2 separate regions of the Homo sapiens genome follow, and region 2 is linked to region 1. A link means that fine-mapping ties the variant in region 1 to the expression of a gene that starts in the linked region. Tissue or cell type: whole blood. Region 1 holds a variant in brackets; the other region holds the start of a gene. All regions are shown on one strand. Distances are between the middles of the regions.

Region 1 (6,327 bases):
CCTGTTAGAGAAGTGAGGAAATACCCTAAAAGAAACCTGCACACCTGAGCATCTCTGTGCTTGGAAAAGTCACTTCCCCTTTGAGGGTCTCAATTTGCCCATCAGTAAAGTGTGAGGCATGGACTAGGTGGTTTCTAAGTTCTTTCCAGCTTTAATAATATATAAATCATTAACAGTATATCTAACAATATATAAATCTAACAATATGTAAATCATTAAAATGGTGAGAATTTTAAATTCTGATGTAGCTTTTTAATAATTAGGAAAATCACTTCAGTCTAGAATACAACCCACCAACACTGTGTTAATCCCATCAGTCTGATCAGGTGGAAGTTATCTAGAAACTTTATTTTCATGATTGGGTAAGAGTTTTGGAGGAAGTAGTACATTATAAATACAGTAATATCTAAATGTCAATATCAGCAATTATATAACTTCTACTATATTTCAGTAGATGAAAGAAAGCCATTTAGATAATTAAAACATTTTTTCTGTACTTTAAAAAATTAAAATGTTTTCTTACTTAAGAAATTGTCATTCTATGCATTTGAGACATACAGAAGAAAAACTACATACGTAACATATATGTAGTTTATGAGACAAAATAAACACTGTTAACTCAGCATTTAACTTTAGAACTAGAACACTGCCTGCACCATTGTGTGTGCCTGAGTTTTCCTCCCCTCTCCTGTCACCTGCCTTTCCAACACCACAGGCCTCTAGAACTAATCACTATTCTGAATTTTATGTTTATCATTCACCTGTTTTAAAAATAAATGACATTGTCACATATGCATGAATTCTTAAGGGATATATTGCTTAGTTTTGCTTGTTTTTTTTTCAAGCACATATTTTATTTGAATAAATCCTCTGTAGTCCATTTTTATGTTCAACAGTTTAAAACATATACAAACAAAGCTTGAAAGTAAATGAAGATCTGACATATCTGAAGCTTAAAGATTTTTATTTTTCTTTTCACCACCTTCCACATTTTACATTTGAAACTCCTTGGCTTCGTTGACAATCCATTATCCTGGTTCTCCTGCTCCTATAATTTTCTCCCTTTCTATATATCTAAATCTAGATAATTTAAAAGAAATATCAAATCTCTATCTCTGCATTCACAAGTTTCCTAGCTATTCTTCCAACCTCAATTAAAAGATTTCATCGCCTTTAAGTCCCAGCTTTAAACCCTGGCCGTCTATGGTTTTCCACAATCTTCAGATTTGCTCTGCTAAACATTCCCGTAACATGCTCTGCCCTTCCTGTCTCTCCACCCAGAACTGTCCTTTCTTCTTTCAAATTCTATTATCCCTTAAAATCTGATCAGTTCCTCATCTTCCACGAATTTTCCTTCACTACCCCAGCCTAAAACAAATTCTAGTTTTGCTTGTTTTTAAGGTTTACAAAATGATATGAAAACTATATGTTGGCTTTGATAAGTTCCTTTTTTTCAATCAATGTAATGTCACTGGAATTCATCCAGGTTGTTCAGTTGAGTGTAGTTTATTCGTTTTCCTGTTGGTTTAATCTATTGTGACAGGCAACCAGTTTATTTGGCTCTTCTCTTCTTAACGGATATTTGATTTGTTTCCAGTGTTGGCTGTTATGAACTATGCTGCTGTGATTATTCTTGTATGTGTGTCTTGAAGCATATGTGAAGATTTTTTTCAAGGATTTATACTTAGGAGTGGATTTGCTGGCTCACTGGCTCACAGGGTGTGCAGATATTCAACTCTGTAAGACAGTGCCAAATTATTTTCCTGGATGATTAAGCTCCCTGAGCAGCACTCGTTAATCATCTGATTTCTTTTCCACTCACCCCACCCCCATGCAATGCCACCACCCCACTTCCAATCTATTGGGAATACAATGGTACTGTGTTTGGCTTCCATTTTAGTTATGTATGAGGGTGATCATCTTTTCATATGTTTATGAAATATTCATGTTTCCTCCTCTGTAAAGTGTCTGTTCATGTCTTTTGCTTATTTTTCTATGAGGCTGCCTTTTTTTCAATTTACTTGTAAAAATCCTTTGTATATTCTGTATTCTACTCCTTTACTAATTATATTTGTTCCCAATATCTTCTCACAGTTTGTGCCTTGCCTTTTAAATTTCTTTCTGGTGTCTTTTGACAAGGAAAGACAAGGTTGCAATTTTAATGTAGTTAGAGTTATCAATCATTTGTCTTATGATCAGTGCTTCTGAGGCAGGAGAATAGGGTCTGAAGGCAGGAAGCCTAAGGCCAATTTGCACCAACTTCCTCGAACTGAATCAAAAGGAAAACCCCAACTTTTCATGCCCAGGTAACAAAAGGACCAGAGGCTACTCCCTTTGCAATCTCCCACCCGCCTCTGTGTGGCAGATGAAAAATGGAAAGTACCTCTGTATTAGTCTGTTTTCACACTGCTGATAAAGACATACCTGAGACCGGGCAATTTACAAAATAAAGAGGCTTATTGAACTTACAGTTACACATGACTGGGGAGGCCTCACAATTATGTCAGAAGGCAAGGAGGAGAAAGTCACATCTTCTGTGGATGGCAACAGGCAAACAGAGAGCTTGTGCAGAGAAACTCCCGTTTTTAAAACCATTGGATCTTGTGAGACCCATTCACTACCATGAGAACAGCATGAGAAAGACTTGCCCCCATGATTCAATCATCTCCCAACTGGTCCTTCCCACAACAGGTGGGAATTATGGGAGCTACAAGATGAGATTTGGGTGGGGACACAGAGCCAAACCATATCAACCTCTGATTGGTCCCCTCTTGCAACCAGTCAGACTGGTAGCAGGCCTAGTCTTCATTTGCATTGGGATATAACTTTGTTACTTCACTACTTCACTTCAGCCTCTGGTCCCTTCCCACAACCAATCAGACATTTGCATAGAGTGTAATTTTGTAACTTCAGCCACTGATTGGTCACCTTCCACAACCAATCAGACTGGTCGTGGGCCTCTCCTGTATTTACATAGGGTGTAAACCGAGTCACCAGTGGGAAACCACTAGAGGCTATTTAAAACCCAGAAAATTCTCTTGAGCAGCCAGCTTGAGCCCGCTCCCACTCTGTGGAGTATACTTTTGTTTCAATAAATCTGATTTTTGTTGCTTCTTTATTTCATGGCTTTGTTGTGCATTTCTTCCAATTCTTTGTTCAAAACGCCAAGAACCTGGACAACTTGTAGTCAAGGCCCTCCACTGGTAACACTTTTAGGAAATCCTTTCTTACCTTGAAGTGATAAGAAATATTTCTATATTTTCTTTAAATTTTTTTAAGTTTTTGCTCTTAAAATTTAACTTCTTAAGCCATATGGGATTTTTTTTTTCCTTATGGATAGAAAATTTTCTTGCACCTTTCAGAAAATAGTCATTCTCTTCCTCAGATTCGTGATGCCATCTCTGTTGTTTCCATGGCTCTGTGTCTAGAAGCTCTGCTGTTTTCCGCTAGTAAAGTCATCTATCCCTGCATCAATACCAACTTCCTTACTTACATAGCTGTAAAATGTCTTGATACTTTCCCATCACTGCTTTATTATTCTTTAAGAATGCCTTGGTCATTCTTGAGGTTTTTAATCTTTCAAATGAGTTTTAGAATCAGCTAGTCAAGTTCTGATAAAAAAAATTGTGGTTTTTGATAGGTTTGGGATTTTGACAGAAATATTGAATCAGCAGCTCTACTTGGAGAAAGATGACTTTCTTACAATATTGAATCTTGCTAGCTGTGAACATAATAGGCTATCCATTTATTTAAGTCTCATTAATATTTTATAGTTTCATAATTTTCTTAAAAGTCTTCCACATTTTTTGTTAGTTTTATTCCTAGGTATCTTATAAGGTTTTTTTTGCAATTTAATTTTTTTTTTT[TG/G]CAAAATATAATTGTAAAAAATTGTATTTTCTATGTTAGCGTATGTTAGAATATTTATCTTGTATTCAGTTGCTCTGAAAAACTCAGCTGTAACAAATTACATATGCATGATTTTAAGTTTTCTCTTGAACAATCACATCATCTATGAATATTGACAATTTCGTTTCTATCTTTTCAATTTTTATACCTTTTATTTTCCTGTCTTACTACTCTGACTAGAATTTCAGTATAGGCTGAGTAAGAGTTTAATAAAGCACCTTTGTGTTGCTTCTGATTTTAAAGATTATTCTTTTAAAATTTCACCATTAAAAATCATATCTGTCAGGCGTGGTGGCTCATGCCTGTAATCCCAACAATTTGGGAGGCCAAGGTAGCAGATCACTTAAGCCCAGGGGTTCAAGACCAGCCTGGGCAACATGGCAAGACCTGTCTCTACAAAAAATACAAAAATTAACCAGATGTGGTGGCATGGCCCTGTAGGCCCATCTGTTGGGACAGTTGATCACTTGTGCCTGGAAGTTTGAGGCTGCACTGAGCTGTGATCACGCCACTGCACTTCAGCCTGGGTGACAGAGTGAGACCTTGTCTCAAAAAAAAAAAATATGTTAGCTCTAGGTTTTTGGTATATAACTTTATAGGTTTTGAAAATTTCTCTTATTTTGACAAAAGTTTTTTTCTTTAATCATAGAGGGATATTATAAGATACTTTTTCTGCGTTATTTGAAATGGTCATGTTTTTTCATCTTTAATTAGTTAATTAATGCAGTATATGACGTTTACACATGTTTAGATAATCCAAGTAAAATTATGGAACTGTTGTAATTTTATTATTTATTTATTTATTTATTTATTTATTTATTTATTTATTTATTTTTTGAGACGGAGTCTCACTCTGTTGCCTAGGCTGGAGCACAGTGGCACCATCTTGGCTCACCACAACCTCTGTCCCCCAGGTTCAAACGATTCTCCTGTCTCAGTCCCCCGGGTAGCTGGGATTACAGGAATGTGCCACCACACCTGGCTACTTTTTTGTATTTTTAGTAGAGACAGGGTTTCACCATGTTAGCCAGGCTGGTCTCAAACTCCTGACCTAAGGTGATCCACCCGCCTCGGCCTCCCAACATTTATTATTGTTTTTGTAGAGATAGAGCCTTGCTATGTTGCCCTGGCTTCTCTCAAACTCCTGGCCTCAAGTAACCCTCAGCCTCAGCCTCCCAAAGTATTGGGATTACTGGGTGTGAGCTGCTGTGCCCAACAATCATACTGTTCATACACCACGTTTCTCAAAACCTACCTCTTTTCTGCCCCGAATCTTTCTATAACAGTGGCCCCCAAACTGAGATTTTAGTATGATAGTATGTGAAACGTAATGGGTAAATCAATCATGTTTTCTTTTAATTTGCTATAGTTCCCTTACCAATGTCAAACTACCCTTGAGTTTCTGAGGTATAATAAATTCAAGTTAGTTGTTCCTTGTTTCTAATATCTGCAACTTTGTTCATGAACGAGAGTGACTGCACTTTTCCTTTCTTACACTGTTCTTTCAGGTTTGGGGATCAGTGTCATAGAGGCTTCAAAGGATGGGTTAGAGAGTATTCCTTTTTTTTCTTTTCTTTTTTTTTGAGACAGTCTTGCTCTGTCTCCCAGGTTGCAGTGCAGTGGTGTGATCTCGGCTCTGCTTCCCGGTTCAAGCAATTCTCATGCCTCAGCCTCCCAAGTAGCTGGGATTACAGGTGCATGCTACTGTGTCGGCTAATTTTTGTATTTTTAGTAGAGGTGGGGTTTCGCTATGTTGGCTAGGCTGGTCTTGAACTCCTGGCTTTAGGTGATCCTCCTGACTCGTCCTTCCAAAGTGCTGGGATTACAGGTGTGAGCCACCATGCCTGGCCTCCTTTCCTTTTTCTTGAAAAATTTTGCATAAATTTGAACACTCTGTTTCAAAAGTTAAGTAGATTTTGTCTGTAAAACCCTCAAGTCTTTCTTGGTATTTTCTTTGTGGAAAGACTTTTATCTTCCAACTAAATTTGTATAAGATTATAGGAACTTCTTCTTAATTTTGATAATTTTATTTTTCTAGGCGTTCCTTCACTTGGTTTAGGTCTTGTTAGTCATTCTGTGTTCACAGAAAGTAGATCTACTGAGGCTTTCCTATGTGCTTGTAAAAGCCTTGATATAAGAGGATTGTAGATTCCTTATCACCTTTTTCGTCTTTTATAGGTATCATCTGTTCACATTCTGGTCAGCTAGACAGTTGATCAACTTTGATTTGCATGCAGTTCAGCTGACTGTCCTCTTAACTCATATTTCTAGAAAGATATTTTTCTTATTTCCTCAAAGCTGATTGTCTTAGATTTTCAACAAGAATAAGTGAGGTGTTTCTTAGCTGCCCCCACTCCGCCCAACGTACCCAGTTGTATAGTGAATAAAATTATTAGTTTAATGATTTAGCATCAGAAAATA
Region 2 (6,327 bases), 65 kb before region 1:
AATTATTTTTATAAAGTGTTATACACATTTCTCAAAGGTATAATTTGTGCATAATGACATTTGGGGATGGTGTGCTAACTTTGACCTATAGGGCTCTGTACATTGGAAATAAATCATAATAAATCTTTCAATTGCTCCTCAAACTTGGCTGATCATAAGAATCAATGGTAATGATTAGAAATACTATAAGAACTCACTCTACCCACCTGAATCAGAATCTTCTAAGAAAGGGCTTAGGAATCAATATTTTCATGAAGTACACCCCTTGTTCTTATATTAGGTAAGTTGGAAAATCATTCTTAAAAATAAAATTCTGAATTCTGAGTTCAACAGAGAGAAACACAGGGGATCAGCAGCAACCTCTGCACCCTTCAATAACACCTCAAGCTCCAGTCTGCCCATCAGGCTCTCCAGAAAGGTAGAATGACAGCTTCACTAATACCCCTTCCTGGGAAAAGCGGCGCTGTCCTGAATTACTGCAGATACTTCTGCAACAGTGGATAGAAGACTGTACCAGGAAGAGAATAACTGGATGAGATAACTCAACAAGTGATCACATCAATTAGATAAGAAGGGTGATGTGATCAGAAGACAATGGAGCCAGGATTAAGCCAACATCAGGCTGACCCCTCAATTTCCTTAGGCGTCTCTCCTTAGCACTTTACCAGGAATAGGTGCCCAGGCAAGCATTTTTCAAGCTTCCAAATGCCAAGGAGTTTGAAATGACAAGTTAGTTTTTGGCCTGGTTATAGAAATACTGAATTTTCTCATATCTTAAGCTTTTTGGATGACCTAATATATGAATAAATATTTTTCCTCTTCTTCCAACTACTCTCACCTTTATATTGGTGTGCCACATTTGTTCCCATATGTAATCAAAGAATGGTAGAAGTGAGTAGGCAGCAGTTAAGATTGGAATGTAAGGATTTTTAAAAATAAGTTTACCTTGGAACAATCTAAAGAGGAAAGCTATGTGCTATTATAATCCTTACAGTCTTTATTTCTAATATGCCTATCTTACTGAAACTGATCCAGTAGTCCCATAGACAGTTTTTCTTAAATATAGAAATTAATCCTTCTGGTTTTAAAGCTTGAAACTCACCAGATCCAGACAATGAGATACCAGCCTCTCATTCATTGTAATTGCTCCCTTACTCCTTCCACATTCTTGTTTTCCCATACATATTTAACATTTCTTCCCCGCTATATAAACCTCTAATTTTAGTTGATCAGGAAGATGGATTTGAGACTGAGCTCCCATTTCCTGGACTGCAGCACCTGATTAAAGCCTTCTTCCTTGGCAATACTTGTTGTCTCAGTCGTTGGCTTTCTGTGCAGCAAATAGCAGGACCTAAACTGAACCCCTGGTGTTTCAGTAACATTATTTTTTACTTGTTAATCATTCACATAACCTTTTCCTCTCCTCCTTACTTTCTTCCCCATGCTCACTCACTCTCTTGCTCAGTACTGCTCTCTGTCTCTGTCTGTCTCTCTTTATCTCTCTCTAACACACACACATACACACAAATTCAGACACACAGACTCATATTTAATGATGGACTATAGCCTACCAATTGGTATGAATTTTACCTTTTGGGCCAACTCTAAAAAGAGTGCTTCGGGCTGGGCGTGGTGACTCATGCCTGTAATCTCAGCACTTTAGGAGGCCGAGGCAGGCGGTTCATGAGGTCAGGAGATCGAGATCATCCTGGCTAACACAGTGAAACCCCATCTCTACTAAAAATACAAAAACTTAGCTGGGCGTGGTGGCACGTGCCTGTAGTCCCAGATACTCAGGAGGCTGAGGCAGGAGAATCGCTTAAACCCAGGAGGTGGAAGTTGCAGTGAGCTGAGATCGTGCCATTACACTCCAGCCTGGGTGACAAAGGGAGACTCCATCTCAAAAATAATAATAATAATAATAATAATAATAATAATAATAATAAATAAATAGAGTGCTTTTGCATAAACAAAAGTTTGAACATTCTGGCCCGTCCTCACATGAACCTAGGGCTGGCAGAAGCATGAGCATTTGTCACTCATGAGAAACACAGGGTCCTATGCCTTTTTGTGTCTCCACACCTCCCATCTGTGCTTTGCTTTTGATACGGGAGGCGGGCAGGGAAGTGCTGGGTAGAGAAGAATGGGGTCCCTGGCTAGGGCTCCACCCTCAGGCCTGTACCCATGGACGTAAGTGAGAACAGGCACTCCTGTTTTCACGCCCAAATGTTGCATTTTCCAAAAGCACTCTGGCCCGCCACACCCCCATCCTCTGCCTATAAAAACCCTGAGACCCTAGCGGGCACAGACACAAGCGGCTGGACATCAAGAGGAACACACTGGCAGAATACACTGACAGACTGGCAGGACATCAACAGCAGTATGATGTGGACCACGTAGAATTTGCCTGGGGGTGGTTGGAGGAGAGTCAGGCCACTGAGCGGCCTGACTCCAGGGGAAGACCGCCTTCCCATTCCATTCCCCTTGTGGATCCCATCCATCTGCTGAGAGCTACTTCCACCAGTCAATAAAACTGTGCACCCATTCTCCAAGCCTACATGTGATTCAATTTTTCTGGTACATTAAGGCAAGAACCTTGGGATACAGAAAGCCCTCTGTCCTTGCGATAAGGCAGAGGATCTAATTGAGCTGATTAACACAAGCCACCTGCGGATGGCTAAGCTGAAAGACTGCACTGTAACACACTCCCACTGGGGCTTCTGGAGCTGTAAACACTCAACCCTAGGTGCTGCCATGGGGTAGGAGCCCATGCTCCCCATGACCTGCCCGTCTGCATGCTCCCTCTAGGGGTTTGAGCTGCAGGGTACTGAAGAAGCGAGTCACACCCATCGCACGCCCTGCAAGGGTGTTTCCAAGTTTCACTTTGAGTCACACTGCATTAAGAAGATCCACTACCTTGCATCCCCTTCTTCCTGAAGAGGCCTACAAAGTCAGACCAGCACTTAGTGTTAACAGATCAAGAGAGCCCAGCTTGACTCTACCAGCTGAGCAATATAGGTGGATACAGAAGTCACCTTTCATGTGTTCTAACAAATGAGTAACTCCAAAAAAATAGTTGTAATATTTTAATAATGTAAGTTCTTGCCACTACTCAGAGCTATAAAATGTTCAGCTATCACCTGCACTATCACGTACACACTGAGCTATGTAACGAGAATTACATTCAGCCAATGTCTGCTAAATAAAGGTTTGTGCATTTTAGTTCAATGATGTAGCTACAAAGAAAATGAAGCCTCAAGACACTAGAACCTTCTGAGATGCAAAGCTTTGAGTCCTTGACTTTGAATTCAATGTCTAAATTCTAATACATTATTATTATATCTGCCTTAAGATTGATATAGGAAATTTTTTTTCTAGTTAGTGTTATTTCTTCTAGGAGCTTAAAAAAGGTAACTAAGGAAGAATTAAATGTTCCAAAGATATATTATGGTAAACATGTATGTACATACATGGGTATTTGTCACACTTGTCAGAATCTTCTTCCTTTGAGAGGTGCAAACGTTAGCTGTCTGAGATCCACCCTGTTTCAAACTTACCTTATGCTTCCTGTGTACTGTGAGGCTCCCAGTCTTGCTGTCTTTCAATGGGGCAGCCACTGCTCAGTTGCTGCCATTCAGAAATATGAACCCAGTATCACCAGAACTTTTGATTTTTCAAGAGAAACCAAGATTCCAGATTTGTAGGTGATATCTTCCATTTTTCAGATAAAACAAAGGAACCAGAACCACATCCACTGATCGGATTTGCCTGGGGAGGAGGGGTGCTCTCTCCTTTGATCTTCTCTTCTGGAAGAGATGGACCAAAAGCCTCTCCAGCAATAATCCGTAAATATCACTTTTTACCTTTTCTCTATAAAACTCTAACTTTTCTGATATTAAGATAAAATTCTTTCATTGAGAAAAATTTAAGAGTGGCAGATTACAAACAAAAAACATTAATTCCTCCAAACAGAGATTGCCACTTCTGCCTTCTAGTATATGCTTTCCCAGCCTTTGTGTAACCAAGCATTTCATTCTACTTTTATTTTATTCTTTCCACAAATCTGAATCATACTATTTTAAATTTATTTGCAGTTAACCATATCCATGACTGTTTCTCTCTACATAGTTATTTGTCTAGATACAATTTTTGATTACTACATAGTATTTTATTTTAAATATAAATTACTGTAATTCATTGGCCAATTCCTATTGCTGGAAATTTTATCTGTCCAATTTATTTGCTATTCGGACCATTGCTATGGCACACATCTTTGTGTTCATTTCTGTTAATGTCTTTAGGCACATTCTTAGAAATGCTATTTTGGGGTCAGAATGTAGAAATATTTTTAATGTTTTTGGCTTGCATTAGTACCCTTTAAAGTTGGATAGATTGGATTCAAATCACTTTTACCTTTACAAGCAAAGGAACCTTAGGCGAGTTACCCTGTAAACTCCAGGACTTTCAATTATAAAATGGGAATAATATGACAGGGCAAGTTGTGCCACTTTATACTCCCCTTAGCAGTGTGTAAGAGAACAACTGACCTTGCATTCTTGCTAATTTTCACCTTTTCCAATGGAATAAATGAAGATGGTATTTAATTATTTTTATTACAAATAATGTAGATTTTTCAGATACTGGTTTAAAATTTTGTTCAAGAGTTACCTATTCCTATTTTTTTCTATTGGTGTATTAATTTTTTAGTTGGTTTTATGGATTATAGAGTTGACCCTTGAACAACATGTGTTGGAACCTCTCAGGTCCACTTACATGCAGATTTTCTTCTGCCTCTGCCACCCCTGAGACAGCAAGACCAACTCTCCTCTTCCTCCTCCTCCTCCTCAGCCTACTCACTGCAAGACGACGAGTATGAAGATCTTTATGATGATCCACTTCCATGTAATAAATAGTAAATGTTTTCTCTTCCTTGTTATTTGCTTAATAACATTTTCTTTCCTCTAACTCATTTTATTGTAACAGTACTGTATATAATATATATAACATACAAAATATGTGTTAATTGTCTATGTTATCAGTTAAGATTCTGATCAATAGTAGGCTATTAGTAGTTAAGTTTGGGGGTAGTCAAAAGTTACTTGCAAATTTTCAACTGCATAGCAGAGTCAGCGTCCCAACCCCTGTGTCGTTCAAGGGTCCACTGTGATATATATGTGTACACATGCGTTTTTCCTTTTTAGTCAAATCTATCAATATTTTATTTTTATTATGTAATCTTAGATTATTTTAAACTCTTTTTAATTTTTCATATTTACATATTTAACTTATCTGAGGAATTTATTGTGTAGGTGTTATGAGGCATTATCCCAACAAAATATATTGACTAATCCCTTCTTTGTCACCAATTTTAAAGATCTTTTCACTGGCTGGGCGTGGTGGCTCATGCCTGTAATCCCAGCACTTTGGGAGGCCAAGGTGGGCAGATCACAAGGTCAGGAGATCGAGACCATCCTGGCTAACACAGTGAAACCCCGTCTCTACTAAAAACACAAAAAAATTAGCTGGGCGTGGTGGTGGGCACCCGTAGTCCCAGCTACTCGGGAGGTTGAGGCAGGAGAATGGCATGAACCCGGGAGGCGGAGCTTGCAGTGAGCCGAGATCGTGCCACTGCACTCCAGCCTGGGCAACAGAGCGAGACTGTCAAAAAAAAAAAAAGATATTTTCAGTACTTCCATATGAATGTTTCTGTTTCTAAGTTTCTATTCTGTTTCAATATCTGTTCTCTTTTCCTCCAGTACCATGCTGTTAATAGCATAACATTTTTTAACATCTGGAAGTGCAAGTCCTTTTGTCAAGCATTTTTCGTTCTTTTTACCTATTTATTCTTCCACATGAAAACTAGCCTCATAGTAAGTAAAACATATAACCACGTATGTATATTAATTGGAATTTATAAATTAATTCTGAGGGAAATGACATCTTCAAACTATCAAGACTTCTCAGTCACACATCCAGCTTTTCATAAAATTCAATAGCACAGTTCACAGTTACCATCTCTGGCAGGACTGTAATCTGTGTTGCTGAACCATAAGCTTTGGCTGTCAACGAGGCAGAAGCAGGGATAAACCATAAGTTTGACTCAAAGGCCAAAACACTAGGGTGTTTGTGACTCAAAAGTTCCAAAGTTCTGGGACTCTGGCTCATTGCTATTTTTGTTCATTAATTTAACTAAACCTCCCAGATAAGTGGCTCTTTAGTTTCTTTGAAAATGTAAAAATTGGCCAGGCTAGTGGCTCACACCTGTAATCCCAGCACTCTGGGGGGCCGAGGCAGGTGGATCACAAGCTCAGCAGTTCGAGACCAACC

What was found. PIP is the estimated chance that this variant, and not a neighbour inherited with it, causes the effect.
Region 2: it holds the start of SAMD3, and the variant in region 1 is fine-mapped to the expression of SAMD3 in whole blood (INTERVAL, PIP above 0.99).

Annotation. Positions count from the first base shown.
Region 1 is chr6:130,155,486-130,161,812 of GRCh38, reverse strand. The region is part of intron 8 of SAMD3 (sterile alpha motif domain containing 3); the gene reads left to right. Among named protein-coding and RNA genes, the nearest start is that of SAMD3, 64 kb to the left of the region's middle. The variant TG/G (reference allele first, on the strand shown) is at 3,867.
Region 2 is chr6:130,220,212-130,226,538 of GRCh38, reverse strand. It overlaps SAMD3 (sterile alpha motif domain containing 3), which reads left to right and starts at 3,588. Exons shown (of 12, transcript NM_001017373.4): 1 at 3,588-3,845. RefSeq lists an enhancer at 2,872-2,981.